5 separate regions of the Homo sapiens genome follow, and all the other regions are linked to region 1. The links come from fine-mapping of genetic effects on gene expression. A gene starts in region 1. Each other region holds a variant in brackets. All regions are shown on one strand. Distances are between the middles of the regions. Region 1 holds the start of LINGO2 (leucine rich repeat and Ig domain containing 2). Region 2 has its middle 320 kb from the start of LINGO2. Region 3 has its middle 110 kb from the start of LINGO2. Region 4 has its middle 350 kb from the start of LINGO2. Region 5 has its middle 90 kb from the start of LINGO2.

Evidence for each region. PIP is the estimated chance that this variant, and not a neighbour inherited with it, causes the effect. A credible set is the group of variants that fine-mapping cannot tell apart.
Region 2: its variant is the best candidate, but not a certain one, in a credible set for the expression of LINGO2 in whole blood (TOPMed, PIP 0.75).
Region 3: its variant is the best candidate, but not a certain one, in a credible set for the expression of LINGO2 in whole blood (INTERVAL, PIP 0.64).
Region 4: its variant is the best candidate, but not a certain one, in a credible set for the expression of LINGO2 in whole blood (TOPMed, PIP 0.54).
Region 5: its variant is the best candidate, but not a certain one, in a credible set for the expression of LINGO2 in whole blood (INTERVAL, PIP 0.86).

Annotation. Positions count from the first base shown.
Region 1 is chr9:29,210,566-29,216,866 of GRCh38, reverse strand. It overlaps LINGO2 (leucine rich repeat and Ig domain containing 2), which reads left to right and starts at 3,266. Exons shown (of 7, transcript NM_001258282.3): 1 at 3,266-3,945. RefSeq lists a silencer at 4,626-4,675.
Region 2 is chr9:29,526,182-29,532,482 of GRCh38, reverse strand. No RefSeq gene overlaps it. Among named protein-coding and RNA genes, the nearest start is that of LINGO2, 320 kb to the right of the region's middle. The variant C/G (reference allele first, on the strand shown) is at 3,529.
Region 3 is chr9:29,316,932-29,323,232 of GRCh38, reverse strand. It overlaps the pseudogene PDK1P1. Among named protein-coding and RNA genes, the nearest start is that of LINGO2, 110 kb to the right of the region's middle. RefSeq lists an enhancer at 788-877. The variant G/A (reference allele first, on the strand shown) is at 3,583.
Region 4 is chr9:29,561,572-29,567,872 of GRCh38, reverse strand. No RefSeq gene overlaps it. Among named protein-coding and RNA genes, the nearest start is that of LINGO2, 350 kb to the right of the region's middle. RefSeq lists an enhancer at 405-1,604. The variant G/C (reference allele first, on the strand shown) is at 3,079.
Region 5 is chr9:29,300,522-29,306,822 of GRCh38, reverse strand. No RefSeq gene overlaps it. Among named protein-coding and RNA genes, the nearest start is that of LINGO2, 90 kb to the right of the region's middle. The variant T/C (reference allele first, on the strand shown) is at 3,492.

The sequences.
Region 1 (6,301 bases):
GATTTGTCACCTTAGGTAAATTTGCATAAGCCTCAATCTCCCTGTAATTTGAGGACATAAAATTTAGGTAAGCAGGTTGTAAACAGGATCAACTGATATAATGTACATAAATCACATTACATAGTCATTAAGTCATTACTCAATACATGGTCGCTTTCATCATCATCATCATCATCATATACATCTATTTTATTGTGTACTAGATTCTGTATAGATTCTGGGGAACAACAATGTAAATGACAAGATCCGTGCTCTCAGAGCTCACAGTACAGTAGCAAAGGCATACCAGTAAAGAAAGAATAGCTTTTATCTATGAAAAGACAGTACACCAATAGACTGAATGCTATGCTCTAGAGAAGTAAAAGGTGTTCTGAAAATGGCAGTTTGTAGAGAAATGATCTTAAGGAGGGAAAAGGATCAAGATGTTTCCATTGGAAGAGATATCATATATTTCAAATTCAATTATCAGAAAACATAAATACATAGACAACACTGGAATAATGCTGTAGTTATTTTAATTTGGTGGTGAAATCAGATTCTTGGATCTGACAGTATCTTTGAGTCTCAATAGTTTCTTTTCAATTCCATAGATAGACCTAAGGGTAGCGGGAATGGGGTACATCCTCTGATCCTGAGGTTTGCTCTCCTTGTTTGTTAAATAATTTCCCCCATAAAAGCAAAATGTAAAAGGCGAGGGGGAAAAGGGTGATCCTTATCCTCTTCCATTTTTTGAACAGGATCCATAAATCTACAGGTTTTTATTATTTTTTTTGAGGGTGCTTAAATGTCAAGAATATTATGCTATGGATTACCACTACTGCATACACATCGCATACATCAAAAACTCAAAGCAAGTAAAAAGACTTCGCCATGGCTGGTACAAGACTTTCCACAACATTTCCTACCACTGTAAGGCACCCTTCACGTATTAAAGTTAATGAATATGTAAATAACCTATGTTTACTTTAAACAGAAACTTCAGTTGCAGACAGTGGCCTGCATACCAACAGCAACCAAGAAAGGAATTTGAAGTCACAACCTTTTTGGAGAGGAGTCGCTCTAAATTCTGAATTTTCTTGAACCAAGTGAGTCTCTTCATTACAGCTCTGCAATTCATGCCTAATAGTCTGCAGAATATTTTATTGGTAATTGATAGGCTTATACAATCAGAAATCATAAGTTAAAGATGGCCTTTTGTTGGAAATAGTTTATTATAATTCTTATTCCCACTTCATTATCAGGAACAGTCATTTATTAATTAGGAATAAGAATTAGAACTCGAAGAGGCATCAAATATTGCGGCACGCAGACAATGTATAGATTCATACCAGGTTCCAAAATACTGCCGAACATCCTCCTCTTGAAAGGCTGCAAAAGAGTCACTGTCGAAGATACATTTTAGGACATCAAACCTAAAAACTCAATCCTGGCAAACTAATACACACGCAAACAAAATGCCTCTTTTTATTCCTTAGCACCTCATCACCGATTTCATTATTCACTTCTTCAGGCAAGCTGCGCGGGTTAGCTTCAAGCTCTTCCCTTAATTGCACCAGAAGTTAAGTCTGGGCGTTGGACATACACACTCTAAATCCTTACGCGTGGGTCTGTCTGTGAACAGCCCGGAGCAGCGGAGCAAGTTAGTGGGAGGGTATCGCCAACTGTCTGCTCGCTCCAAGTGGCAGCCTTCATGGATCCATCACCCCTAAACCCACAGCCCCTGTCACTGCCTCTGCACTGAGTCGGCTCAAACAGAATCCAAAGCAGGTTCATCCCTGAAATTCAGACTTGCGCCTGAAGTTACCGGTCCGGAGCCCCTGGGAGCCGCAACGCTCACTGTGGAATGCTCTGGATCGATTTCAGAGCTGTGAGTAGCGCTGCTAGAGGTCATCCTACAAGTTTCATCTTTTGTATTAAATCTTCACTTCTGCGCTCTGCGACTCCACGTTTGCCGCTCAGGAACTCGGTTCCCGGCAAAGTCAACCGCCTTCCAATTTGGAGAGGGACAGTCAAGAACTCCCTTGATTTTGAGGAGATTCTCGATGGAGACGGCGGCGGTGGGTGGCGGAGCGGAGCATCCAGCGCCAGAGCAAAGGAACCTGGTGCCATCTCCAAGCTGGGCAACTTTGCGTTTTCCGCTAGCAGGTCCGAAGCCATAGATATTCGCGAAGCCCCAGAGGGCAGAAATCCTCAGCAATCCTCTGTCTCACAGTTGAAAAGGCAGAGTAGCGCTCTGTTGCAATAGAAACTACGCGGAGCACAAATGCAAGCTTTGGTTAAAAAAAGCACAAAAAACAAAAAAACAACGGGCAAAAGTTTACTCTCTGTAAGCAATTAATTCCTGCAGCCCATTCCGGGTAAAACAAACTCCTCTTGGGAAGCTCCTTTCGTGGGAGTTGTGGATGACACGGGGGCGCTTCTGAGAGCGAAGTCTCTCCTGCCTGGGACGCCCCAGCGGTGTAGCACCCAGTGATCCCTCCCGACCGTCGAGGGAAGAAAAAGAAGTTGGGACAGGAGCTAGCCAGAGACCCGGACAGCTACTCCTGGTGCAAAACCTTGGAAATGGCTGCTAAAGGGGTTGGGTCTCCAGACTCCTAATCCCTCCCCTTTCTCCAGCTGAGCCGTTCACCTGCTACCGTCCAGTTTACAATATAAGCGTAGCACCTAAATTAACCCAGTTCCAAAAGCTAGGCACTACAATTCCCTAAGAAATTCATTTTCAAAACATCTAAGCGACTTTCGGGAGCTCCTTGGGGGAAATGTTACGAAGGGAGTGGGCAGGTAAAGACGGGATGCGAGGGGATTATGTTCACGAAGCGATGTGTAGGCTCCTCTATTCGAAGGACCTCGGGGAGCCCCTCAGCTCCCAGGAGAGCTGCTGCAGCCACTTCAATTCTCCACTACAGAAGGGGCGGAGGTGGCCCCTGGAGGGTGGCGATGGGAACGGGGCTCATCTTTAGTCTGGTGGCCTCTCGCTGGGTGTCGAGGGGGTGTAACTGGCTTCAAGAAAAGAGCTAGGGAGTTGAAATGCCAGACAGGGCAGAGAACGGAGAGGTGGCCCAACGGACTTAACGGCGTGCGGCGAGGAACTGCCTGCCGGCAATCCGCTAACTAGTGAGGATTGATTGACTCTTTCTGTCATCAGCATCCTTGGAACCCCTACCCCTCCTCAGGACTCCCGACTTTTCGCTCGCCACTGGCCGGGGGCCGCGGGCGCAGGGCTGGGCGTGCGTGTGTAGCTGCGCGCGCGCGGGTGTGCGCGCCTGTGTGTGTGCGCAGCCCGAGCTCTGAGCCCGGCTGCCAAGCCCCAGCCGGCTATCCTGCGTCCCGCCTTGCAGCCGCCTCCTCAAAGCCTCCTCACCTGGCGCCGCCGCCCGCCGCCCGCCCAGCCCCGCACCGGCGCTGCCTCCCCTGAAAGTTTCCCCAGCGTAGACACCTTCGCGCTGCAGCAGCCCAGGGAGACGGTGTTCCGAAGCTGTGCCTTGGAGTGGCTCTTCTTACACCTTTCCGCCTCATCCCCACCTAATTCGGGCAGGGAGTAGAAATTTTTCCAAATTAAGGGGAGAAAGGGGGGAGGGGCATTATCGAGAGAAAGCAAGAGGAGCGGCCGCAACTGAGAATATCCTGCCTGATGCCAGGGAATTGACTGACGTGTCTGTGGGGTTACGGAAGAAAACTGAATAGGCAGCCAAGTTGGCCCAGGAGGGGCTGGGAGGCTTCCGGGTGCCGGGAAGGTGGTCCCGGTCTCCATTTCCACTGGTACGAAGGCTTGGAGGCGCCTCTATGGTGAGGGCTTTTGAACCGCCATCCCCTCCTGATCCCTTGGAAAGGAGGAGCCTTCAGAGCTGAGGAGGGGGAAGTCCAGGAAAAGCCCCTGGACTTGTGTGCGTCGCATCCTTGGCTTGGGATTTTAAGGACACGAAGGAGAATTAACAGCGCCTCAAGGTAAGAGGCAGCAAAGCTGCTGCTTGAATTGCCAGAGACAATAACTTAAAATAGATGTTGGGGATGGGGTGGGGGTTAAGTCAAGTTAGGAGGATCTCTCCGGGCGTCGCTACGCGATCGCACGACCCGCCTGGCAAGTCAGGGAGTAGCCGGTGCGGCGCTGCCCAGCTGCGAGGCAGGAAGCCAGAGGAGTGTCCTGTCCTCACACTTTCTGAAACCTATTGGAAAACGATTTCGGACTGGGTTCTCTGTGGAGGTTGATATACAGCGTGGATTTGGGTTTTGGGTTTTCGTTTTTTTACCAGAGAGGTTTTTTTTTTAAATTTTTATTAGCACCGCAGACCCACCCCCAATTGCCATAGAGAGCTGTGGGCACCGGTGAACGCAACTAGGACGCGGTGGCAGGTGAGCCTGGCGCAGGTGGGCAGGTGGGGGCGGCGGCGGCACCCGGCCTGCGGACTCGGGGGCGCGCGAAGCCCACGCTGCCGCTTGGCCGGCTCCCTGCAACCGGCGTCGGAACCTGGGCGCCGCAGGTCGCCTGCTGTTCCCTTCGCCTCCGCTAGAGGCTCCCAGCGGGCGCCGCGGAGCGGGTGGGTGTGGGGGCGCCAGGAGGCGGCGGGGTGAGCGCGGAGAGCCAGCGTGCTCGCGGGGTGGCGGAGCCCGCGCGGCAGGGGCGGGGGACGTGAGCGGCAGTCCCGGCGCGCTTCCGAGCTCCGCACCGCGCCGCGGGGACGCAGGTCCGAACCCGGCTGAGCTCTGGAAAGCTGTGCCTTGAACTGGAGCCACTTCGGGGATGAGATCCTGACCCGCACCCTGAGGGCAGCCCCGGGAGGTAATGCCCTCTTTCTCCTCCACTCTCCTTTCGCCTCTTGGTTCTCTGTAAATTCTCAGTCAGATACTCAGGGTGGGAGGGAGTGAAGGGTGAGAGAGAGTCTATAGGGTCTGTATCTAAAAAAGGTGCCTTTCAGTGTTGCTCCGTGGTGCTCTGTTGTATGTGTATTCGAACTAATGCCCAATTTCCCCCGCCTCCCTTGAATATTTGGCTGCTTTAAGGGAAGTTTTTTGCGGAGAACGCTGGGTGGTTGGTCTGGGCCAGGCTGCTCCGAGGTGAGCTAGGGGACCTGCTGTGCCCGCTTTGAGCCGCAGTAGACTGGAGTGCAAGACTCCAGGGATGGGGTGTGGTGGAGAAAACGAGTACCACACCCTCTTCTTTTCCTCTTCACCTGCTGGTGAAGTCTCCCCATTCAGCATTTTGCTGATTTCCTTTTCCGAGGGATTGGCTCAGAGAACTGAGGAAAGCTGCTGAAATACTTGGAGGGAGGGAGGGAGAGAGAGAGAGAGAAGAGAAGAGAAGAGAAGAGAAGGATGAGAAGGAAGTCATGGTCTGAGCATCAGAAGAGGAAGGAGGGCGAAGTTAAGCTTGTGTGTTTGAGGTGGGGGAGTGAGTGCTGGGAAATGGCCTTGGAGTTCAGTTTATTTGATGAAGTCAGATTCACTTCACATTTCACACTTTGACATAATCCAGTTTGCTGAAGCCACCTAACAGATATTATCTGTGCTGTGTACTGCCTTGGGCTCAGTGGGCACTGAATATGTTTGATGAGTGTGTCTAAGCAATAGATAAATAAATAAATGAAAGAGTGCTTATTGTGTTTGCTTGGTGTGATTACCCCCGTGTCTGTCAGCCGGTAATGTATGTATTTTTCAGCGTGCTGTGCTGTGTTTGTGCATACCATATGTGGTCATTTTACACTCAGTAATGCAGTTTCAGGGTCTTGGAAAGGTGGCTCTTAACAAAGACGAATATTTAGAATAATACTAAAGGAAGACCAAAAATTACCATCGGGTGTGGAATATTCCAGGAATACTGAATAGAAGCTGAGATCCATCATTGGTGAAAATATTGGGCCACATACTGAAAGGGCAAAAAATATTTTTCAGAAATTAGAAGCAGTGGTTAACATTTTAAAAGAAGGAGATGTTCTTTAGGGTTCTGTCACCATCACCCAGTAGCATGCGTTACTCCCAATACAGTTGGAGTGTGAGGAAGAAAAAAAAATGTACTTCCTGTTCAAAACCAGTAAAATGTTTTGAGATCTGCCAGGTATTTCACCTTAAGAATTTAAATGGAATGGATTGCCTATTGATGGCAGAAGTGGTTTAGTTATGTAAGGCATCTATTATTTTTGATTAAGGTACATATATGTTAATATTTTTATATAATTTTACTGTAGTGGGAATGGAAGCAGGACAATTTATTGATGTTTTTCATTGCTGAATAACACATAGCATTATCTCAGGGAAGATTTATATAAAGTTTGTCATTCATGTATTATAGTGGATGATGCTCTGTGTG
Region 2 (6,301 bases), 320 kb before region 1:
AGGATTAACATATGTGAGAACTCTGAAGTAAAAAAAAGGCAAGGGAAAGCAAAACTAGGAAGAAAATGAAGAAAGTCACTGAAAGAGTCAGAAAGTGGAGATGTGTGAGACTGATTTTAAAAAGTAGAAGGAAGTACATGCACCTGAAATACAAAGACCTAAAAGAAAACATATAAGTAGAGAGAGGAAGGACCCAGCCATGAAGTCTTGTAATCCATTAAAATGATTTTGGTTTATAGCCTAAAGGTCTATATAAAACTCTAAAGTATTCTAAGCAGAAAAAATAATAATCAAGTTTATAGTTTGTAGTTTTTATGGTCTCCTCATGGAGAATGTATTAGCTGGAGCCAAATGTACCTATGAAATAACTTGTGAAAAGTATATGACTATCTTTCAGGAAGAGCTGATAGTAGCCTCATTTAAAGTGGCGGTAGTAGTGACAAAAAAGAGAACTGAGCAAGATATCAGAAAAATGGTCGGGTAGGGAATTTCAGGGTATACTGTCCCCCAAGAAATATGTGCCCCCCTAAAAACTATAAACTGGTAAAAGTGAATTTACTTTACCAGAACTCTGGAAGATGGTCAAATGTTCATAGCAATAAATAAAATGTTCAATCATGAGAAAGACTACTTAAACCTAGTGGAAAAGCTTTGAGGAGTTTTAATTTACCCTTGTCACACACAATTCCCTAGTGTGATGGCAGTCCTGAAATCAGCAACCTGCATTCCTGGTGTGGGTTCCTGGTTCTGTAGGCAGCAGAACAGACCTTATTCCAAAGGAATCATGTTTGTATATTTTGACCTGCGTGAGTCTGCCTAAATGACTGACACAAGAGGCTTGACTTTATTTTGCCTAACTCAGATCTCTGTTAGGGTGAAGAAACAAATTTGGGAAGGAAGCGCCTTCAAACAATCAAAAAGCAGATGAACAAGCCTCTGTTACCTGGAGCAAGAGATAACAGTTGGGCAAAAAATAGACATGCCAAAAGCTTTGAAGGAAAGGTTGTGGAGTAAAACACTTCCTAAAATACGAGCTTTAAAAATCTCCTGCATATACTGGGGAATGTGGAAAACCAAGAAACAAGTAGAATGGAATGCAGGCTCAAAAATGATCTGAGACTCCATAACCTTTCACTTCTGGCTCATGTATATGTTCAGCAGAAGTAGGAAATGAAGGGTCAGGTAGCATCAGAAATAACCAACTAAGCATGGAAGGAGTGACCAAAACAGAGTCAATAGGCAAAGATTTTAAAAATGTGTTTTTTTTCTTTTCATTATAAATTTCTTACCCCAGAAGGATGAAAAAATATGTTAAACCACTAGCTAACCACTTCACCAAATTAACCAAGACTTCTGAGACTATACATAACAAACGAATTCAGTCTTCAAAAAATAGGTTACAACTTAAAGTAATCAATAATACCAAATCCTGAGGTGTGGGGAGAGTTTCATTTTCAGATATACCAAATCATAATTATACAAATGCCCCAATTTAACAAAAAATTATGATGCCTGCAAAAAAGAAACAATAGCCCTTTCACAGAAGAAAGAAAACCCAAAGAAACTGATAATAATGGAGCACAAGTTTTGGTACTATAAAAACATTATAGGCTGGGTGTGGTGGCTCACACTTGTAATCCCACCACTTTGGGAGGCCAAGGCAGGCAGCTCATGAAATCGGGAGATCAAGACCATCCTGGCTAACACAGTGAAACCCTGTCTCTACTAAAAATACAAAACATTAGCTGGGTGTGGTGGCACGCACCTGTTGTCCTAGCTACTCAGGAGGCTGAGACAGGAGAATTGCTTGAACCCAGGAGGCGGAGGTTGCAGTGAGCCAAGATCACACCACTGTACTCCAGCCTGGGCTACAGAGCGAGTCTCTGGAAAACAGAAGAAAAAAAAAAGACTATAAACCCACTGTCTCAAATATGCTTAAAGGGTAAAGGACTAAAGGACACTGGAAAAAAAAAAAAAAAAAACTAAAGAAAACTAGAAGCACAATGACTCAACAAATAGGGAATCAATACAATGATAGCAATTTAAAAAGGAACCAAAAAGAAATTCTGGAGTTGAAAAGTACAATAACTAAAACGCAAAATTTACTAGAAAAGCTCAACAGAAAATTTAAGCAAACAAAAGAAATAGTCATTCAACTAGAAGATAAGACGATTGAAACTGCCCTGAGGAGGCAAAATAAATTTTAAAAAAATAAATAATATTTAAGAGATCTCTGGAACACCATAAAATGTACCAATGTATGCACAATGGCAGTTTCAGATGGGTAGGACAGAAAGAAATGAGCAGAAAAAACATCTTTGAAGACATGATAATAAAAACTTTCCAAATATGAGGAAAGACATGAGTCTCTACATCCAATGCATTCAATAGTCTCCAAGAAGCATAAACTCCAAGAGATCCGTACTGAGTTATAGTCAAAATGGCAAAGGACAATGACAAAGAGAATCTTGAAAGTAGTAGAAAATAAGGAAGTCAGCAAGTACAGTTGATTCTCACTAACAACCAATTTTTTGTAAAAATCCATAAAGGCCAGAAGGCAAAAAGATGATATTTTTAAAGTATTGAAACAAACAGAAAGATCTGTCAATCAAAAATTTTATGCCAAGCAAAACAATCCTAACAAAACAGTAAATAAGATATCTTCAAATAAACAAAATATGAAGGCATTTGCTACTAGTACACATCCTCTATAAAACATGCTAATGAGAATCTTTCAGGCTGAAATGAAAGGCAGCAAATATTAAATCAAAATCATGCAAAGAAATGAAAAGAAACATTAGCAAAGGTTACCACATAGGTAAATATAAAATACAGAATTATTTTATTTTTGTTTTATATTTCCTCTTATTTTCCTATATAACATAAAACAATAATTCTAAATCTATGCTAATGAGCATATGGTCATTTTCAAAAATACCAACATATAGGAGAAGTAACAAAGATGTAAAGGAGCAGAGATTTTATATGTCATTTTAACTAAGATGGTATTAATTTAATAATAGGCTACTTTAAGTTTATTATGTTAATTGTAATCAGTGAGATAACCACTGAGAAATGAAATAATAGATAATATACAGAGAGGAATCAAAACAGTACAATACAAAAAATCAATTGAACACAAAAGAAGGCAATAGTGAAAGAATTGAGGAACAAAAAAGATATATGACATATAGAAAACAAATAACAAAATGGTGCGAGTAAATGTTTTCTTAGAAATAAATGATATAAATGTAAACGGATAAAAATCTCCAGTTGAAGTCCAGAGATAGGTAGAATAGAGCAATTATATGATACATCTATATGCTGTGAACAAGAGACTCACTTTGGATCCAAAAATACAAATAGTTTGAAAGTAAGTCATTTTTCAAAAGCATTCCATAAAAAATAGTGATGAAAAGAAAATTAGAGTGCATATAGTAATTTCAGGTATAATAGATATTGTCAATTATTGTTTGCAACAGTCAAGGCCAATCCACCCATAATAGATAGCAATTAAAAACATATACC[C/G]ACGCAAAAACATGGCCCCCAAACATATAAATAATTAAAAATGGAGAAAAGAAAGAAGTTCTATAATAAGATTTCATAGTCTCACTTTCAATAACAGGTAGAAAAACTAGCATAAAAATCAGCAAGTAGATTAAGATTTGTACAACCCTATAAACCTGTTAGAACTAATGGGCATATACAGAATACTTCACCCACATAACAAAAGACCAAATATTAAGTACATGTGGAACCTTTCCCCAAATAAACCATATGTTAAACCACATAACAAGTCTCAATAAAATTATATAGATATTAATTATACAAAGGAATCTCCTCTGACTATGATGCTATGAATCTAGAAATTGATAACATAAGAAAATTGGGAAACTTCAAAATATATGTAAGTTAAACAATACACTCTCAACAATGGGTCAAAGAACTTACCACAAAAGATTTTAGAAAATGTCTTCAGACAAAGTAAAAGGAATAAACAACTTGTAAAAATGTAGAGTTTTAGTAAAACCCATGCTCAGAGTAAAATTTATAGCTGCATATACCTATATTAAAAAAAGAAGAAAGATCTCAACTCAATATTCTAACTCTACACCATAAGGAACTAAAAAATGATAAGCAAACTAAATCTAAAACTAGCAGAAGCAAGGAATTATCATGATTAGAGCAGAACTAAATGATTCAGAAAATAAAAAATCAATAGAGAAAACCAAATAAGTCAAATGTTTGTTCTTTGAAAAAGTTTGATATAATTGACAATCATTTATATAGATTGAGAAAGGAGACTCAAATCATTAAAGTCATAAGTGAAAGTGGACATATTACTACAAAACCTGTACAAAATAAAATGTAAAATAATGTTTTGGACAATTGTATGCCCACAAAATAGGTAAATAAATGAAATGCACATATTTCTCCAAAAAACATGAATTACCAAAGCTGAATCAAAAACACATGGAAACTATCAAGAGATCCATTATGAGTAAAGAGATTGAATCTGTAATAAAAACTCTTTAAACAACGACAATAAAAAAGGCCAGGACCAGGCATTTTAAATGATGAATTCTTTTAACCATTTTAAAAAGAATTAGCACCAATCTTTCCAAAATCCTTCCAAAAATAGAGAAGGAGGACAAAGTTTCTAAATCATTCTATGAAGCCAGAATTACCCTGATACCAGTACCAGAAAATAATATTAGAAAAGAAAATAGCTCACCCATATAACTAATGAATATAGATGGAAAACTTCTCAGCACTATATTATCAAAACAATTCCAGCAGCATATTAAAATATTTATGAATCATAACTAAGATTTATTCAGAAATGCAAAGATGGTTCAACATATGGAAATTAATGGCATATATTTTACCAATGAAATTATGAATAAAAATTACATCGTTATCTCAAGTGGTATAGAAAAAGCACTTACAAAAATCTAATACTCTTTTTTGGTTTAATTTTAAAACCTTTAACAAATAAGAAATAGAATGTAACTGCTTCAAAGATAAAAAGCGTCTTTAAAAAATCATTGCTAACATGCTAATTAATAATAAAAGCCTGGAAACTTTCCTCCTAAGTACGCCATGGATGACTGTTTGGCCAGTACTATTAAACATTTTATTGGAAATCCTAGCCAGAGGAAGTAGGCAAGATAAAAAATAAAAGTCAATTTAAATGGAAATGGAAAGTAAAAATTGGAAGTAAAACTATGTATATTCATAGATGGCATGATCTTATATAAGGAAAATCTTAGGGGAAAAAAACCTATTAGACCTAATAAGCAAATTTATCAAAGTTGCAGAATATAATACAAACACACAAAAATAAATTGTGTTTCTATACAATATCAATGAAGAATTTGAAAAGAAAAATTAAGTTCCATCCACAATAGCATCATGAAATAAGATACTTAGGACTGAATTCAACCAAAGGCATTCAGGACTTACACACTGAAAATCATAAGACATCACAGAAATAAACTGAAGTTCTAGGTGAATGAAATCTTGAATTGCAAAGGAATTTGAATGGTCAAAACAATATTGAAAAAGAAAAACAAAGTGGGAGGACAAACACAAAACTTTTGTAAAATTTCCTACATATTTACAGTGATCCAAACAGTATGGCACTGTCACAGGATAGACAATATTGATTAATGGATAAGACTGAGATTCTAGAAATAAATGGTAAATCTACAGTCAACTTATTTTCAACAAGGTTGCTAAGGCTGTTCAATGGGAAAAGAATAGTCTTTTCAACAAATTTATGTTCAGACAAATGGAAATCCACATGCAAAAGAAAAAAGTTGGGCCCTTGCCTCACACTAAATACAAAAATTCCAAATGAATCAAACACCTAAGTATGAGAGCTAAGCCTATAAAACTCTTAAAGAAAAACATTTAGGCAATTTTTCACAACCTTAGATCTAGCAATAATTTACTAGATATGATACCAAGAGCACAAAGCAACAAAATAGAAAACATGAATACATTAGACTATCGATTTTTTAAAAAATATGCAACAAATGACAGTATAAAGAGTGAAAAGACACGATTGTCTTTGGGATAAAATATTTGAAAATTATATCTCTCAAAAAGGTTTAGTATCTAAAATATATAAGGAATCCTTACAACTCAGCAAGAATAGAACAACCCAATTAAAAATGGGCAAGTGAATTTAATAGACATATCCACAAATTGTGGATACGTGCTATGCAAAGTGAAAGAAGCCAGACGCAAAGGCCACATATTGTATAATTTCATTTATATAAGATATTCAGAATAG
Region 3 (6,301 bases), 110 kb before region 1:
TGAAATCTCCCCCACTACCTGTTCTTCAGTATTAGAGACTGAATGTTTGTGTCCCCCCACCAAAATTTATATGTTGAGACCCTAACCCTCAGTGTGGATGTATTTAGAAATGAGGCCTCTAAGATAATCATTAAGGTTAAGTGAGGTCATAATGGTGGGGCCCTGATCAAATAGGATTAGTTTCTTTATAAAAGTAAACAACAGAGTTTTCTCTCTCTTTACCTGCATACCCACCAAGAAAAGGCTATGTGAGAACATAGTGGGAATGCAGATGTCTGCAAGCCAGGAAGAGAGAGCTCTCCCCAGAGGCCAACCCTGTTGGACTTTGATTTGGAACTTTTAACCTCCAGAACTACGAGAAGATGAGTTTCTATTGTTGAAGCCATTCAGTCTATGGTAATTTGCTATGATAGCCCCAACTGACGAATACATCCATTCAGATATGGTAAAATTTGTCACAATTTTGGGGTAGACACAGCTCAATCTCAGTAATGGATGAGTCATGTGCCAATGACTCAATAAAATAGGAGCAGCTGAGATTAGGAGCAGAACATTGAGTTGGGAAAGGAGAGAGAAGCTTGGAAGAACTTAGAAATGCTTATTAGGGGCTCTTAGGGACGTGAGAAAAAAAAATGATGATTTGTAATGGCTGAAACTACTTACTACCATATCCTGAAGGTAAACACAATGTTCATAATATATAAACTGCCCATGTTTTAGAGAAAAAAAGTGGTTAGTAACCAAGTGCTGAGGTGGAGTTGAAGTCTGCAAAATACCACATGCTCTGAGCAGCAACTTGACTCAGAAGTTCCACCTAGAAACCGAAACCAAGTATGTTGCTTTCTCAAAGATAGACAAATATAAATGACCTCAAAAAGGATGACTTTATGCCAGTGAAACAGACTGTCCACTTTTATCAACTGTTTCCAACTATCCTATTAAGATCATATATGGGTAGTCAAGTGTTCTACAAAAAGAAATTAAGTTTGACAAACTTTCCATACTACTATATTTCCAAATTAAAGATTCATTTCCTGATAAATTAACTAGGACACAAATGCAAGTTTGAGAAAATTACTTTGGAGCAGATATGGATGTGAATTTATTCTCTTGAGTAATATTTATCAACTCATCTTTAAAATTGGTCATGATCCTGCATGTCAATAGTGTAAACTTTATAGTTCACACTATAGTTTACAGCAATTAAAAGGCATTAATATTTACTCTTCATGATATTCCTAGGGGAATTCTACAATAATCCCATTGAGGCTATTTTCTATACCTAAAGGTTATTTATCTATTTGATTTACAAATGGATACTCTTATATAGCTTCAGGCTTTATAACATTTACATCATTGGATAAAAACCCAAAGAAAAACGCAGCATCAATGACAGCAGCACATGGTACAATTTTAGATTTTGAAATGATCTATCAGTTAAGAGGCGTTGATTTATAAGCAACAGAAAACTCAAGCACAAAGTGGCTTAAAAATTAAGGGCATTAATTGGCCTAGGTAAATAAAAGTAAAGAGGCCAACCTTTGCACTTAATTTACTTGAAGGACCACAGAATATCATCAAGAGATAGCTTTTCTATAGCACTCTGCTTTACCTTCAGTAATATTACCATTATTCCCAAACTGCCATTTCTTTCAGTTACAAGTTGAAAAGTTATACATTTCTTCTTCTTTTTTTTTTTTACATCAATTAGGTAAGAAAGGCTCACTTCCAGAAACTTCCTGATAAGCCAGAAGATCCCTATTTTCCATCACATCATAACAAATATTTTATTTAGTCTTGTTGGGCCAAACTGAGTGAAGAATGACAAATTTTTCCCATTTTTTAGATTACTGCCATATGGAAAACATTTTGTAAAATATTTTGTTTCCGTTTCAATATATTCATTTAAAAATGTCGTAGTGCTAGAAATTAATGATGTTTAAGTATGAATTATGCATTATTGATTATGCAGAACATTTTTTTCTATCCCCTCCTTTAAAATGTTGCCACATTCATTAGCTGTCCAAGTTTTAAAAAATCACATGGTATCCATTTATTATTCTTCAATACATTTTTATATCTGCAATGGATTAATCAGGTACTGGTGAATATAATAACTTGAGAAGAATTTAAACATTGAAATGTTTCAGGGAGCACAGTGATTTAAAACCAACCAGGAGAAAAATTCCCTCAAAATATTGTTTTATATAATTTTCTGTCTATTACCAGAGAGCAAAATAAAAACAGTAAACAGCTTGTAAAGAAAAATAGAAAATATTTCTCTTTTGCTGCTCCTTTGAAACCACCATTATTATTAGTGTTCAGGTAAAGAAAGTAACACTTTAATTTTGGGAATGGTGGAATCCTTCATAAGTAAAATAATAAACTTTATCTCAGTTGTATGACATCTTATTTAGAAAAGAAGATTTCTTCAGTTCAAAGTATTATAAAAAGGTTCATTTTTGCATGAAAAGTGAAATTTAAAGTTAAAAAATTAGCAATTTGAACTAACAAATCACCAATTAGCTCATTTTAGTATCTTTAACAAATCCATAATGATGGAAAAATAGAAAAGATGTTATTTTTCCAAAAATTGTTCAGATTAGCTATGAATTACTATGCAAACCATAAAGCACTCTGAGCCTTAGAGTCTTCACCTATAAAATGAGGGAACATGATTAAATGCCCTTTAACCTCCCTTCCAATCTACCAATTTAGGTAGTAGCATTACCATTTTAAATAATCCTTTAAAGAGTGAGGGTTTCACCTCAAAGTATTTTCTAAATATATGAAATTCCCCTTTTAAGTTGCAAACCTTTGCTATCAACATTTACAAGAAATGCATTATTACTTTCCTGTCACACTAAAAGAGTGTGAGGTATCACCCACAACACCGTCCCCTGACTTCACAGCTCTGCCTGTAAAACATAGCACCAAATAGAACAGATCAGCACACATAGGCTTCTGTACCTTGGCTCAATTATCTGTAATTTTGAGACAAGCTTTGCTTCTCAAAATGAGGAAGATAGAAACGTTCCTGTCTATCTTTCACTGTTTTGAAGACCAAAAGAGATTACCATATCGATGCAAATGATTATCTTTGTGATGAACAATTTTGACTTTTCCTGATGAAAAGATCTAGAGACTATATAACATATATCTTCTTTAAGGGCACTTATACATTTATGATTTAAATCTTTCAGTTTACTGATTATTCTGTAGTCATTTTGTTTCTTTTCTAACTTGCTGCTTTGTCCTCTAATTGCATCAGCCTGGGATACAGTTTGTTTCTCCCCAAGAGTCTAGAAACCTGACCTTTCAAAAAGTGAAAGTGAAAACCTATAGATCTCTCTGTTACTTTAGCAAATTTGGTATTGCCATTAATTTTAAAACAATGGCTTCCTAGAGCAGGAAAACTTTTTTGTTGTTGTTTTTTCTTGAGATTCCTCCACTCCACTCCAGCCCTAGAAATTCTGATTGAGTATATCTGGGCAGGATAAAGGAAATTTCTGTTTCTCAAAACTCCCTAGTTAATTCTGAAATTGGTCAGTTTGGGAACCACTACTTTGTTCTCTGTTTTAG[G/A]CCTACTATAACATTTTCCTCCGACATTAATCACAACACATTCAGAGTAGATTTTCAGAAATCTGTAGAGAACTACTGTAACAATCTTTTTCAGGAAAATTTTAAAATGGTATATTAACTGCAGAGCTAAGACAGTTCAGGTAGACACTGAAAAGTGGGTGGCTGTTCCTCATGGGAAAATTGTTTTCCACTTTACTTGTAATCATTCACTGGTAAACACAAAGACTATCTTATAACAATTGTCATTACTAACTATAACATGAAAGTTCTCCAAATAACAAAAAGATGGCTGAGTAGTTAATTGGTATTATTGGGAAAATGTGTCTCGTAGACTAAATAAAAGCATAAAATAAACTGCTTTCTATAGAATTTCAAACTTTTCTCATGCCTCTGGAGTTTACCATAAACAGGACAGAAAAGTTAACCAAAAATACTATTATTGAAAAATAAGCTCAGTTAGCTGCAAGAATATAAGTTAAAAAAATACGTATAATTTTCTCTTTGAGGAGTTTTAAGACATGCATAGATTTCAAATTCCATTTATTATACCCAGAATAACTAATTATGAAAATGATATTTAAAATATTTGGTATCAAGTATGGACACCACCCCTTCCAAACTTAATATAAAACCCACATTTTTTTTCTTAGGTGTCCTAGATGTCTGTAGCCACTGAAGAATGTTTTTATACCTCTTTGTTGTCTGCTTGGGCTGCAAGCATAAGCCTCATGGTTGATATTGTCCTGCATCTACGCAGCTGTCTTATATAATGAGGAGTCTAATGTGGACAAATACATCTGCCACATAACCCTCTAGGAGACATAGCTTTGGTTCTCATTGAAATATTATACATCAAAGCATTCGTTGGTTAATCCATAATTCAAACCAGCCAGGAGTGCTACTCCAGATATTTCTGCAGGAATCTACATGAATACATGTGGTTGAAGAATCTGTGATTTTCCTTCAGAGGCACAACACTTCAACAAACATTCATATGTGTCCAATCCTAACTACCTGCTATGACATGAACTTGGATAGAGGGTTAAACACATTTTGTCAGTATAGTGTCCCATGATTGCTCTCATGTCACTTAAAAAGTTCAAACTCCCTATGAGAAAGACAAGTGGTACAAAAACCACTTGGATTAGCTGTTCTGGTGATTTGCACTTAGTTCTCCAACTTTAATTTTAGGAGAAATAATACAAAACAAATTGCACAGATCGTTAGCATTTTCCTAGCCATCTTTTAATAATTTTAGCTAACTTGCAATTTATATTAAAGCTTCCAAAGCATTTTGATTGGATGGAATTATCTTGTTTTTGCCACCATAGAATAAAGAATAGCAAGTTGAGTAACCTTACAATCAAAATGCAACTCATATCGAAATATCCAAAATGTAGTTAACATTCTGGCTGGTGGTGGGAATATCCCCAAAGCAATCCTGTATATATTTTATTTTTTTAATTGACAAACACAATTGCATTGCATATTTCTCATGTACAACATTTAATCACATTCTGAGCTATGCCAATGTCCTTGTGTCTTACAGATCCTTATCACCATGTCTATGAAAAAAATAAAGACCATTAGCACCCTCAGCATTTTCGTCCTTAAAAATTAAGCAACTTCTGAAGACTTCTAATATTCCAGCTCTGTATCAGTTGAGCTGATGATGATGTTCTGAGATTATCAGAAGGAGACTATTTCTTTAATTATATTTGCTATTCCCATGGCCAACCCTGGCCTGAGATATGTGAATGAGGTCTTCTCAACCCCTCTCCCAGATCCAAAAGTTGGCAAGAAGCATGTGTAAAAGTCAAAAGGCCATATATTTCATTGAGCAGAGGGCAATTACAAGGACCCAAATGAGTCCTCAGGGTCACAGCCATTGCTGGGGGAATAAAGATTCCGAAGGTGCCACTGGGGCTTGGTGCTGAGATCCCTGAAGCTGCCATCCCAGCCCTCAGTGAACCCTACACCAGGAGCCCAAGCCACCTGCAATTGGTTGCCACCCTTCTTTGAACCAATAATGTCTCCAGAAGATGAGTTTATGCTGAAATATTTTAGCCTGAGCTATAAGCCCTGTTTTTAGAGTCAGGAATTAGGTTTACCAGAAAGGATCCCCAAATGAAAACTAGGACTATTACCAAACTTAATGGAGTGGATGAGAGGGAATAAAATGATTTCTGCCAAAAATGGGTTATTGGTTTATGATTGAGCTGAACCTGGTATGGTATACTCAGGAATTTTCTCCTGCCAGTGCCTACCAACATGCTTTGTAATACCTCGGTTGTCTATCGTTGAACAGCATCTTGACCAGACCTCCTATCTCATCTCTTTCTACATCCAGTGAACTCTAAAACAAAAATTCTGCTTCAAATCTGGCTCACTGCTCTTCCCCTCTTGCTCGTCTCAGGCCCGCCTCATGGCTTGTAGACCTGCCTGTGGGGAAAGGAGTTGTAGAGTTGGTTTTACTTTCCAATTAACTTTTCTGTTCCTTCCCACCTGTCTTCTACATCCAGCATTGGGAATATGAATAGGAAGAGAGCTTTGAAGGAAGAAGGACAAAGCATATGCTATGTGTCAAATGTTTTGTTTTTGTTTTACTTTGTTTTGTTTGTTTTGTTTTTACAATGTGGCTCTCGGTGCCCTCCAACACAGTCGTCATCCAAAAGCTAACTTTCTATTTTAAGGCCCATTTGTGTGTTTTTTGGAGTGT
Region 4 (6,301 bases), 350 kb before region 1:
TAGGCAATTAATTCTTCTCACATACTTATTTATATTTATTTAACATATATTTACTGATCATCAATGGCATGACCTCTGAGATATGCACTAAGTTTACAAAGAGTAAATAGCTTTTGCTCCTTAAAGGAGCCACATTATTTTGGATAACCAAGATAGTAATTTAGACAACTAATTGATATAGGGAGAAGATATTACAACAACTTATACAGGAATCTTGGACCCCATACACATGATTTGGGCACAAACTAACAGGATGATTTTATTCATATCTTTAAACGCCAATTAACTTTTTAACTATCCGAAATGAACTTAGTGTTAAATCATCAAAACATTAGCAAATTACCCTTTATGACTCCCAATAGCTAATGCAGACGTATGGAAAGAAGACGTTTCCTTCTGCAGAGTCAAACTAATATGTTCACCTCCTTAATGCAGGCATAATATAACAAATGATAATTATGGTTTTAGTTAGTGGGTGAACAACTGCAGTGAAATGGAAAAAGTCAGAGGATAGGAACAAAGCGAGCTAGCTCAGAAATCTTTACCATGCCAAGTATATTTAACCCATATTTAAAATTAACCTAAAATAAATTGTGGAAACCTTGGCTATCGTATCTGGCTTAGCCAGTTAGCAACCTTTTCAAATATCTAGATTCTGGTATGTCTGACCAGTTTTACCAGGAATGCTGGCAAAAAAGGAGAAGAAAGATTGGAAATATTTTCTGCTGGGGTTACATTTGTAAGTTATGTTCTTTATGCAAGTTTAGGAAAATTTTAGCTAGCTAGAATGTTCCAGGTAATCAATGTTCACTTTAATATTATTATCTGGAAAATAGTATGCATTTGTTATAAGTTATATAATAAAACTTTTTTTAAACTTCAGAAAATCTTTTTAAAATCGAAGTCATCATTATATAAAATGTATTACACATTACCTGAATAACTACGTATGTTGACTTTCTTCAGAAGTATCATTCACATCATTAATCTCATTGTAAAAGAAAGACAGCTTCAGACAGTTTAATAGATGAAAGTGAATGAGCAACTACTCTTGGTAATTCCCTGACACATGACTAACAAAGCTTAAATTGCCTACAGAAGTTTACTTTCATATGACTTGTCTTTGTTCCAAAAGTAGAGAAAGGGCTGGGCGCGGTAGCTCACGCCTCTAATCTTAACATGTTGGGAGACGGAGGATTACTTGAGGTCAGGAGTTCAAAACCAGCCGGGCCAACATGGTGAAACCCCGTCTCTATTAAAAATACAAAAAAATTAGGGCATGGTGGCGGGTGCCTGTAATTCCAGCTACTCAGGAGGCTGAGGCAGAAGAATCGCTCGAACCCGGAAGGCGGAGGATGCAGTAAGCTGAGACCATGCCACTTCACTCCAAACTGGGAAACAGAGTGAGACTCTGTCTCAAAAAAAAAAAAAAAAAAAGGTAGAGAAAATGTTTAGGCTATATGAATTTTATAATCAATTACATTTCATAGAATGTCTATGTATTTCTAAATTTTAAATATTCTATATCAAAGAACTATAACATTTTCATAAATTTCACAGGATTTCTTTAATCAAATGTTTAACTTTTACACTTTTTAGTTCACAATTATAGAGCAATTTTATTTAAATGTTGAATCTAGAAATTATCATAAATACTATTTTCTAAGGAAAACTTTTCATATAGGAACTAGAAGTCAGATAAATTTTATAAGATCAATACATTTTTCATGAAGCATTATTACATCTACTACCTTAGTTTATTCAGAAATAACAACTCTATTAAGAATATTTAAGCCAAAGGATAAATAATATTTTAAGCAAATTTCATTGCTTATGTACACAGGATAAAATTAGAAAATAAAGTATAAAGCCATACTCAGAAATGTTCCGTTTTCTCATTATCTAGTGATAACCACTCACAACTTCTTCGGTGTATTTCTTTCCATTGCTTTTCTCTGGATGTGTATGTGTCTACACAATGAAGTTTATATTGCATGTAAAATTTATTTTATTCAATATTATATTTACTCAATATCACTATTTTACTCAATATTGTATCGTGTCTGTTACCTTATGATATTAACATTTTCTCAAAATACCATCTCAAGTGCTACATAATATTCTACTTATGGCACATATAGACATGTCATAATCCATTTAAATAGTTCTCTAAGGATGAACATTTATGATTCAAATATTTTCTATTGCAAATAATGCTATAATGAATATCTTAGAACCTAAATATAATATTGCCTATTGATTTATTATTTAGGATATATTTATAGTGGTATAGTTTTAATAAAAATTTGAATTAAATATTATAGAAGTGTTAAAAAGCTTCTCATAGGTCTTTAATATTACAAATTTTCATTAAGGTACTGTAATCAATGTTTTGTATTGAAAATTAAATACATGAAATTATTATGCATGCTAACATGTCTTTTTGGTAGTTTAGATAAAATGAAGGGAAATCAAATGAACTCATATATAATTTGTTGATTAAACAGTGAGTTTCACTGTGTGGCTTTGTAAAAGTTACTTAACTTGTCAGTGCTTCAGTTTTCTTATTTAAATGAAGATTACAATAATAGTTTATAGAACTGTGCATGGTACAAAGTAAGAAATGATAGATAAATAGGCAATGAGTTATAGCTATTATGATTGTTTTACTTATTGTTGAATCATTGGTCTGATGCCTGTAATCCTCAGGTTTCTAAGAGACATGAATAATTTCATTCTTAGCAAATACATAGCTTTTAAGATTTCTACCCAAACGATTCAGGATTGCCTTCTTTCTGCTCATATGTAATATAATGAAGGGAAAAAATATTATCTATTAAAGCTAAGGCTGAAATAAATGCTGTATAACTCTGAGTAGGAGATAGCAAAGAAAATGCATCATCTGGCCTTTCCTTTATTAGCAGTAGTGAGATATAAAGGCCTTTGCATCATAGTCGCTCCTTGAGGGAACAAAATAAAGCTAAGGAAATGGAACCTTCCTCCTTACTGGTCCTCATGATTTATGACTATAATAAACCTGACTACACAAAAGCACACATTGTTTCAAGGAAATGCTAA[G/C]TGTCATCTCAACACACCCAAAAGCCTGCTCTTCATAAGAAAAAAATGTTACAACAACCAGTGATTCACTTCCCTAATCATTTGCTTACAAGAAGCATCCTACTGTGTTCATCATCAAGAAACACTATATTCCTTTGACTATCTCCTTAGGAAAGAGGGTGGGGAACAAACACAGAAGAAAAGAGTAAAGTGAGAATGAGGCTCTAGAGCAATAGAGAGCTTTTGATGAGGAGGCCAAAATATTGAGTCTGTCACTGTTCTGCTAGTTGGGAATTTGAGGCAAACTACTTGGCTTCCATCTTTTTAGCTATGAAAAATTAAGTGATTGAAGTAAACGATTTCTAAGGCCTTCTCCATCTACAACATTCTTGAAATTTGTATAATCTTATTAATAATAGAGGCCAGCATGGCTGAAATGGAAGCAAAAGAGTGAAGAAGTTAAAGTACATCCTTCAAAAATTACCCTGCTGAGAAAATTAACATTGAACACAGTAACTGTAATTATGAGACAAACTGCAACATTTGACACCAGTGATCACTTCAGCTTATTTTCCTCTCTTGATTTCTACTCTTTCCCCGTCTCTTCTGGTATTTTGTTGTACTTTCTTTGTTCTTCTCCCCCAAGGTTTTAAGTAAAGAGACTGATAAATTATCTCATTCAACCCCTCCTCTGCATTGTTCAACCTATGCAAATGCACCCATCAGCTGAAATGAACATAATGAAAGAGACAGCTAAAAGACTAGTTTAATATGCTAATGAATGTTGTATTAGTTCATTTTTACACTGCTATTAAGAACTGCCCAAGGGTGGGAAATTTATAAAGAAAAGAGGTTTAATGGACTCTTAGTTCTGCATGGCTGGGGAGGTCTCAGGAAAATTACAATCATGGCAGAAGGGAAGAAGTCACATCTTATATGGTGGCAGGTGAAAGAATGAGTGCAGGGCAAATTTCCCCTTTTTAAACCAAGAGGTCTCATGAGAACTCTCTCACTATCATGAGAACAGCATAAGGGAAACCACCCCCACAATCCAATCACCTTCCACCAAGTTCCTCCCCTGACATGTGGGGATTACAATTTGGATTAAAGTTTCAGATGAGATTTGGGTGGGGACACAGCCAAGCCATATCATTCCACTCCCAGCACCTCCCACATCTCATATTCTCACATTTCAAAACACAATCATGCCTTCCCAACAGTCTCTCAAAGTCTTAACTCATTCCAGCATTAACCCAAAAGTCCAAAGTCTCATCTGAGACAAGGCAAGTCCCTTCCACCTAGGAGCCTGTAAAATCAAAAGCAAGTTAGTTACTTCCAAAATACAATAGGGTTACAGGCATTAGACAAATGTTCCCATTCCGAATGAGAGAAGTTGGCCGAAACAAAGAGGCTACAAGCCCCATGCAAGTCCAAAATCCAGCAGGGTAGTCATTAAATCTTAAAGCACCAAAATAATCTTCTTTAACTCCATGTCTCACATCCAGGGCATGCTGACGCAAAGAGTGGGCTCCCACGGCCTTGAGCAGCTCCATTCCTGTGGCTTTGCAGGATTCAGGCCCTACTGCCACAATCATGGGCTGGCATTGAGTACCTGAGGCTTTTTCAGTTACACAGTGCAAGCTGTTGGTGGATCTACATTCTGGGGACTGGAGGATGGTGGCCCTCTTCTCACAGCTCCTCTAGGTAGTGTCCCACTGCCTAATGGAGTAGTGAGAAGGGGACTCTGTGTGAAGGGTCCAAACCCACATTTTTCCTCTGCATTGCGCTAGCAAGGTTCTCCATGATGGCTCTGCCCCTGTGGCAGACTTCTGCTTGGATATCCAGGCATTTTTATACATCCCCTGAGACCTAGGCAGAGGTTCTCAAACCTTAATTCCTGACTTCTGTGCACCCACAGGCCCAACACCACATAAAAGCTACCAAGGCTTGGGGCTTGCATCCTCTGAAACAATGTCTCGAGCTGTATCTCGGCCCTTTTTAGCCAAGGCTGGAGCTGAAATGGCTGGGACACAGGGCACCAAGTCCTGATCCTGCACAGAGGAGTGGGGTCCTGGGCTTGGCCCATGAAACCGTTTTTCCCTCCTAAGGCTTCATGCCTCTGATGGGAAGGGCTGCCTCAAAAATCTCTGATATGCCCTGGAGACATTTTCCCCATGGTTTCAGCTATTAACATTCACCTACTAGTTACTTACTTTATGCAAATTTCTGCAGCCACATTGAATTCCTTCCCAGAAAATGAGTTTTTCTTTATTAGCACAGATTCAGGCTGCAAATTTTTCAAACATTTTTGCTCTGCTTCCCTTTTAAGCATAAGTTCCAGTTTCAAACCATTTCTTTGTGAGCACATAAAACTCTAAGCACTTTCAGAATAATCCAGGACACCTCTTTAATGCTTTGCTGCTTAGGAATTCTTCTACCTGATACCCTAAATCATCCCTCTCAAGTTCAAAGTTCCAAGTTCCACACATCTCTAGGGCAGAGGCAAAATGCTACCAGTCCCTTCGCTAAAGCATAGCAAGAGTGACCTTTAGTCCTGTTACTAACAAGCTCTTCATCTCCATCTGAGACCACCTTAGACTGGACTTCATTGTCTATATCACTATCAGAGTTTTGGTCAAAGTCATTCAACAAGTCTCTAGGAATTCCAAGCTCCCCCACATCTCCCTGTCTTCTGAGCCCCCCAACTTGTTCCAGCCTCTGCTCATTACCCAGTTCCAAAGTCACTTCCACACTTCCAGGTTATCTTTATAGCAGTACCCAACTCTACCAGTGCCAGTTTCCTGCATTAGTCAGTTCTCTTACTGCCATAAAGAACTACCTGAGCCTGGGTAATCTATAAAGTAAACAGGTTTAATTGACTCACAGTTCTGCGTGGCTGGGGAGGACTCAGGAAACTTACAATCATGGCGAAAGAGGAAATAGGCACATCAAACATGGTGGCAGGTGAGAGAAAGAGAGTGAGCACAGGGCAAACCATCAGATCTTGTGAGAACTCCCTCACTGTCAAGAGAACAGCATGGGGAAATTGCCCATCACCTCCCACCTGGTCTCTTCCCCAAAATGTGGAGATTACAATTTGATATGAGATTTGGGTGGGGACACAGCCAAACCATATCAAACCTATCTAGAAGAGTAGTGAAAAGAAAACAAAAAAATATAGATTGGAGTTCTACACTTCTTTTAGAAATAATAATATATGAAAGTATGGAATTATACATAGAGA
Region 5 (6,301 bases), 90 kb before region 1:
CTTTTTTTTTTTATTATACTTTAAGTTTTAGGGTACATGTGCACATTGTGCAGGTTAGTTACATATGTATACATGTGCCATGCTGGTGCGCTGCACCCACTAACTTGTCATCTAGCCTTAGGTATATCTCCCAATGCTATCCCTCCCCGCTCCCCCCACCCCACCACAGTCCCCAGAGTGTGATATTCCCCTTCATGTGTCCATGTGATCTCATTGTTCAATTCCCACTTATGAGTGAGAATATGCAGTGTTTGGTTTTTTGTTCTTGCGATAGTTTACTGAGAATGATGATTTCCAATTTCATCCATGTCCCTACAAAGGACATGAACTCATCATTTTTTATGGCTGCATAGTATTCCATGGTGTATATGTGCCACATTTTCTTAATCCAGTCTATCATTGTTGGACATTTGGGTTGGTTCCAAGTCTTTGCTATTGTGAATAATGCCGCAATAAACATACATGTGCATGTGTCTTTATAGCAGCATGATTTATAGTCATTTGGGTATATACCCAGTAATGGGATGGCTGGGTCAAATGGTATTTCTAGTTCTAGATCCCTGAGGAATCGCCACACTGACTTCCACAATGGTTGAACCAGTTTACAGTCCCACCAACAGTGTAAAAGTGTTCCTATTTCTCCACATCCTCTCCAGCACCTGTTGTTTCCTGACTTTTTAATGATTGCCATTCTAACTGGTGTGAGATGATATCTCATAGTGGTTTTGATTTGCTTTTCTCTGATGGCCAGTGATGATGAGCATTTTTTCATGTGTTTTTTGGCTGCATAAATGTTAGCTCAAGAGATCCCTCTAGGGTGGTTTGAGGCTGTTAGATCTGCATAACAGCTTGATTTATCCAAGCCCATTTGCCAGCCCTGCTTTCTTCCCCTCTCTCCTATGGGTGTTGACCAAATAGCTGCTCCCAAACACTAAAATTTGTGTCAGTGTCTGCTTCCCACAGAACCAACACTGTGAAATTCATCAATAATGACAGTAACCAATAGGAAAAATTTTTTAAATGCAGTTGAGTGGCAGATTGGGAGGAGAAAAGGGAAATAAGGTACATCTTTCAGTTCCAAGATTTCCAGAAATCATAATAATTTCTTTTTATGTCACATAAATTCCCACATATATCTTCACCTCCTTGTAAACAAATTTCCTTTTTTTTCAAGCTTTTGTTGTAACAAATCTGTTTATCTTCCTTGCCTCGCCACTTCTGTTTTGTGTTTTACATGCTAATCTCCAGTTCAAAGATTCCCTTAGTATTTTTTCCCTGTGTTCATCCTGTTCACTTACTTGTATTGAATAAAAAGACTCAGGAAAATAGATTAGCCATTTCTATCATGCAATGCATCCCCCTTTATCTGGAGAATTAAAACATTGTTGTTCCATATCAGTTTCTTATTTACATCTTTTGAAAAAGCAATTGAATGATTTCTGCACAAATTAGATGGGGATTTTAATATGGCACTTGGCATCATTTCAATTCATAAGAAATTAATTCCTTTACTGCAAACCTCAGAATTTGTCCCATGTTTGATCTTGTTCATTTATGTTGTAATAGACATATTTACTATGACCTTTTAAATTATAATGATAATAAAATAGTTACAGTTGAGTACTTACAATGTGGCAAGGTTTGTGCTAAGTGTTTCAATAGCATTACCTAAAATAATCCTTAAAATAACAACTTAAAGTAAACACTATTATTATTTTCTTCTTATGGGTAAAGAATCTAAGTCTAGGTAGGATACTTAACTTACTGCTATGGTTAGGCTTTGTGTCCCCACCCAAATCCCTATAATCCCCAAAATCGCCACGTGTCAAGGGAGAGAGCAAGTGGAGGTAACTGAATCATGAGGGTGGTTTCCCTCATGCTGTTCTTGTGATAGTGAGTGAGATCTCAGGAGATCTGATGGTTTTCTTTTCCCTTTGTTCAGCACTTCTCCTTCCTGCCACCCTGTGAAGAAGGTGCCTTGCTTCCCCTTCTCCTTCTGCCATGATTGTAAGTTTTCTGAGGCCTCCCCAGCCCTGCTGAACTGTTAGTCAATTAAATGTCTTTCTTTTACAGATTATCCAGTCTCAGGCAGTTATTTATAGCAGTATAAAAATGGACTAATACACTTACCCAAGAACGCAATATGTGTGACAGTTCTAGGGAGACAGCCCAGGTCTGCCTGATACAAACCCATAGATAAAGCTAGTAGACAACACTACAAGAAGTCACCAAATGGCCAGCTAAGATCTAAAATACGAAAGTCTAGGAAAAGTGAAAGAATAATGTCAAGGTATATACTTTTGTATAATTTGACATTCCTAATGACAGGGTCAAGCAAGCTAACAGAAGCATCTGTATTAAAGAGCAGTGGGACAGTAACAATTGACCAGTCTATATACAGTAACATATGCCTGCTAATTAACATACATAACTTACTCCTTAATTATACTTCTATTTTTGTTTATTAGAGATCATTGTCTCAGTAAGGAAGGAAATCATTGTCAAGACTAATGCTAGTAACCCTTGAAATAAGTTAATGTCATTTCTTGTTGAAAAATACTATTCATTTGAATTGAAATAAACATTTAAAACCATAGGAAGTTGATATGGTTTGGATTTCTGTCCCTGCCCAAATCTCATGTCAAACTGTAATCCCCATTGTTGGAGGAGGGGTCCGTGGGGAGGTGATTGGCTCATGGGGGCAAGTTTCCCCCTTGCTGTTCTCATAATAGTGAGTTCTCATGAGATCTGGTTTAAAAATATGTGCACCTCTCCCTTCACTCTTCCTCCTGCTCTAGCCCTGTAGGAAGTGCCTGCTTCCCCGCTGCCTTCTGTCATGATTGTAAGTTTCCTGAGGCCTCCCCAGCCATGTGGAACTGTGAGTCAATTAAAATTCTTTTCTTTATAAATTACCCAGTTTCAGGTATTTCTTTATAGCAGTGCAAGAACAAACTAATACAGAAGTATTAGAAGAAAATGAGCATCAATTAAACATTTATAACAACATCTAAATAAGTATCTAAGGTTACCATGATACCTTGAGAAGAATATGAAGAGTAAAAAATAATTATATCACTAATTCATTCAAAAACCTTTCACAGAGCATCCTCTGAATATAAAATATTTTATAAATTATTTTATTTAATCCTCATAACAATACTTTAAGGTAGATATTACTACCTCCTTATAAATACAGAAACAAAGCCTTAAAGACTTTAAGCAATGTGCCTGTGGTCATACAGCGAGGAAATAGCAGATCTGGCCTTACACTGAGGCTTGTCTGGCTCCAGAGCCTGTGTTGTATGAGTGTTTCCTAGTAAGGTAAATTCACATGAAGTCTAGTGAGAGCAGGTAAAACAATCCCTAAGCAATCTGCATACACCATTCCTCCTCTTCCTCCCAAGGACAATCTATGGGGAAACTCTCATGGGCAGAATGTCACACTGTAGGGCAGAATGTCACACTGTATGGCAGAATATCAGCTTAAAAGG[T/C]CAATAAACTTCACAGTAAAGCATTCTACTCATCCATGGAAAATAAATTGCTATTTCTGCTTAGTAAACAAAAGAAAGCTAATTTATGATGTTTACATTTTGGGTAAATTTTCTCAGAACCTAAAAGTTAATAATATATAAATCATAGCAGTCTGACCAGTTATCATGTTTTCTAAAAAGGTTTTTTAAATGATGTTAACAAGAAATGAGAGCTTTAAGCACTAAGGGAAACCAAATAAATATGAATCAAATGAAGGAAATACAAAGAAGTCAAACTAAGGTGATGAGGACACAAATGAGTTATGCTATGAGGAGAATATCTAAGAATAAAGGGTGCTGCCGTAAAAACCCAAGGAATGAGCCAGTCTGCAAAGGCTAGAAGCAATCAATAATTAGCATGATGTAAGAAAGACTGACTAGGAGAAAACTGAGAAGGAACCCTTAGAATGGATTCTCAGGAAAGATTGCTCTGACTATTAAACTGTGAGTTTTTAGAACAATCTATTTACCACAGGAAGCTGTGAAACTGCCATCATTTAGGACAAACAGGCATTAGACTCTTAGAACCACTAAAAGCAAGTGCTAGCAGATACATTAGTGGGAAATGAAAAAAGTCACCTTCCTATTGCTTACTCCTTTCTATACAACTTACAAAGTCTTCTTTGTCCTTGGCTGAAAGTTCATGTTTGTTAAAAGATGCATATTTTTACCTAGTTGACTGATTTATACTCCTTTTGAACTCCAGAGTTTCTGCAGGACTTGCTTAACTCTCTCTAAATGTCATGAAGTGTCACAGGTGTTGAGCTTGTGATTGTGACAGAGACTTTTTTTGAAAACATACTCTCATTATGGAAAAATCAGAATATACAGACAAATAATTCAATATTACCAATATCATAACCACCCAAGGATAAATATAGTAACATTTCAGTGAACAAACTTTCAAATATTTCACACTTGTGTGTGTGTTAACATAGATTTGTGTTTATGAAGATTATCATTATACTGTATAGACTCTTCCATAATTTGCTTAAATTAACACATGAAAATTATCACCCACATAATTAAATTGTTTTCTAAGTATTTTTTTAAATTTTATTATATTTTAAGTTCCAGGGTACATGTGTAAGACATGCAGGTTTTTTACATAGGTAAATGTGCGCCATGGTGGTTTGCTGCACCTATCAACCCATGACCTAGATATTAAGCCCAGCATGCATTAGCTATTTTTCTTGATGCTCTTCCCCACTCCGCCCTCCCCCAACAGTCTTCAGTGTGTGTTGTTCCCCTCCCTATATCCATATATTCTCATTGTTCAGCTGCCACTTATAAGTGGGATTATGTGGTGTTTGGCTTTCTGTTTCTGTGTTAGATTCCTGAGGATAATGGCTTCCAGCTCCATCCATGTCCCTGTAAAAGACATGATCTCATTCCTTTTTGTGGCTGCATAGTATTCCATGGTGTTGTATGTACCACATTTTCTTTATCCTGTCTATTATTGGTGGGCATTTGGGTTGATTCCATGTCTTTGCTATTGTAAATAGTGCTGCAACAAACATACACATGCATGTATCTTTATAATAGAATCATTTATATTGCTTTGGGTGTATACCCAGTAATGGGATTGCTAAGTCAAATGGTATTTGCTGTTCTAAATCTTTGAGGGATTGCCTCACTGTCTTCTACAATGGTTGAACTAATTTACATTCCCACCAACAGTGTAAAAGTGTTCTTATTTCTCTGCAACCTTGGCAGCATCTGTTTTTCTTGAGTTTTTAATAATCGCCATTCTGACTGGTGTGATATGGTATCTCATTGTGGTTTTGATTTGCATTTCCGTAACGATCAGTGAGGTTGAGCTTTGTTTATATGTTTGTTGACTGCATGTATGTCTTCTTTTATCTGTTCATGTCCTTTGTCCACTTTTTAATGGGGTTTTTTTTTCTTGTAAATTTCTTTAAGTTCCTTGTAGATTCTGGATATTAAACCTTTGTCAGATGGAGAGATTGCAAAAGTTTTCTCCCATTCTGTAGTTTGTCTGTTCACTCTGATGATAGTTTCTTTTGCTGCACAGAAGCTCTTTAGTTTAATTAGATCCCATTTGTCAATGTTTGCATTTGTTGCAATTGCTTTTTGCAATTTCATGATAAAATCTTCCATGCCTATGTCCCCAGTGGTTTGCTAGGTTTTTTTCTAGGGTTTTCATAGTTTTGGATTTTACATTTAAGTCTTTAATCTGCATACACAGTATTGATATATAACTATAAATTATCTATTGCTGGACACTAGACAGTTTCTAATTTCTTACTATTGTATATAATGCCGCAATGTCTACTTTTGTACCTAAGTTTTTGTCATAGCTTTAATCACTTCTTTAAGAGAAATTCTGGAATTGTTGGGTCAGTTTGCATATTTAACTAATTATTTAAGAAACCTGAGAATAGAATGTACCTTTCTCCTGAAAGTAGTACATTGTAGGGTCTGGAGTCAAGAACCATGGGCTGATTCTATGTGGCTCACTTTCCTATCTGTAATATGGAATTTATAAAATTACTTCATACAATCATGGTGATTATTTAATACATGAAAATATGTAAAATACTTAGAATAGTACCTATCAGAGATGAAACTCTCACAAATGTTTGTTTTATTCTTCTTGTTATTATTATTATTACCATGATTATTTCCAAATAACATTATCATCAAAAGTCATTTACCTTCAACCTAGATGACAATATTATCACAAAAATAGTTATTACTATTAAATTTGAAATTTAATAGAAGGGTGAAGTGGATCGTGCCTGTAATCC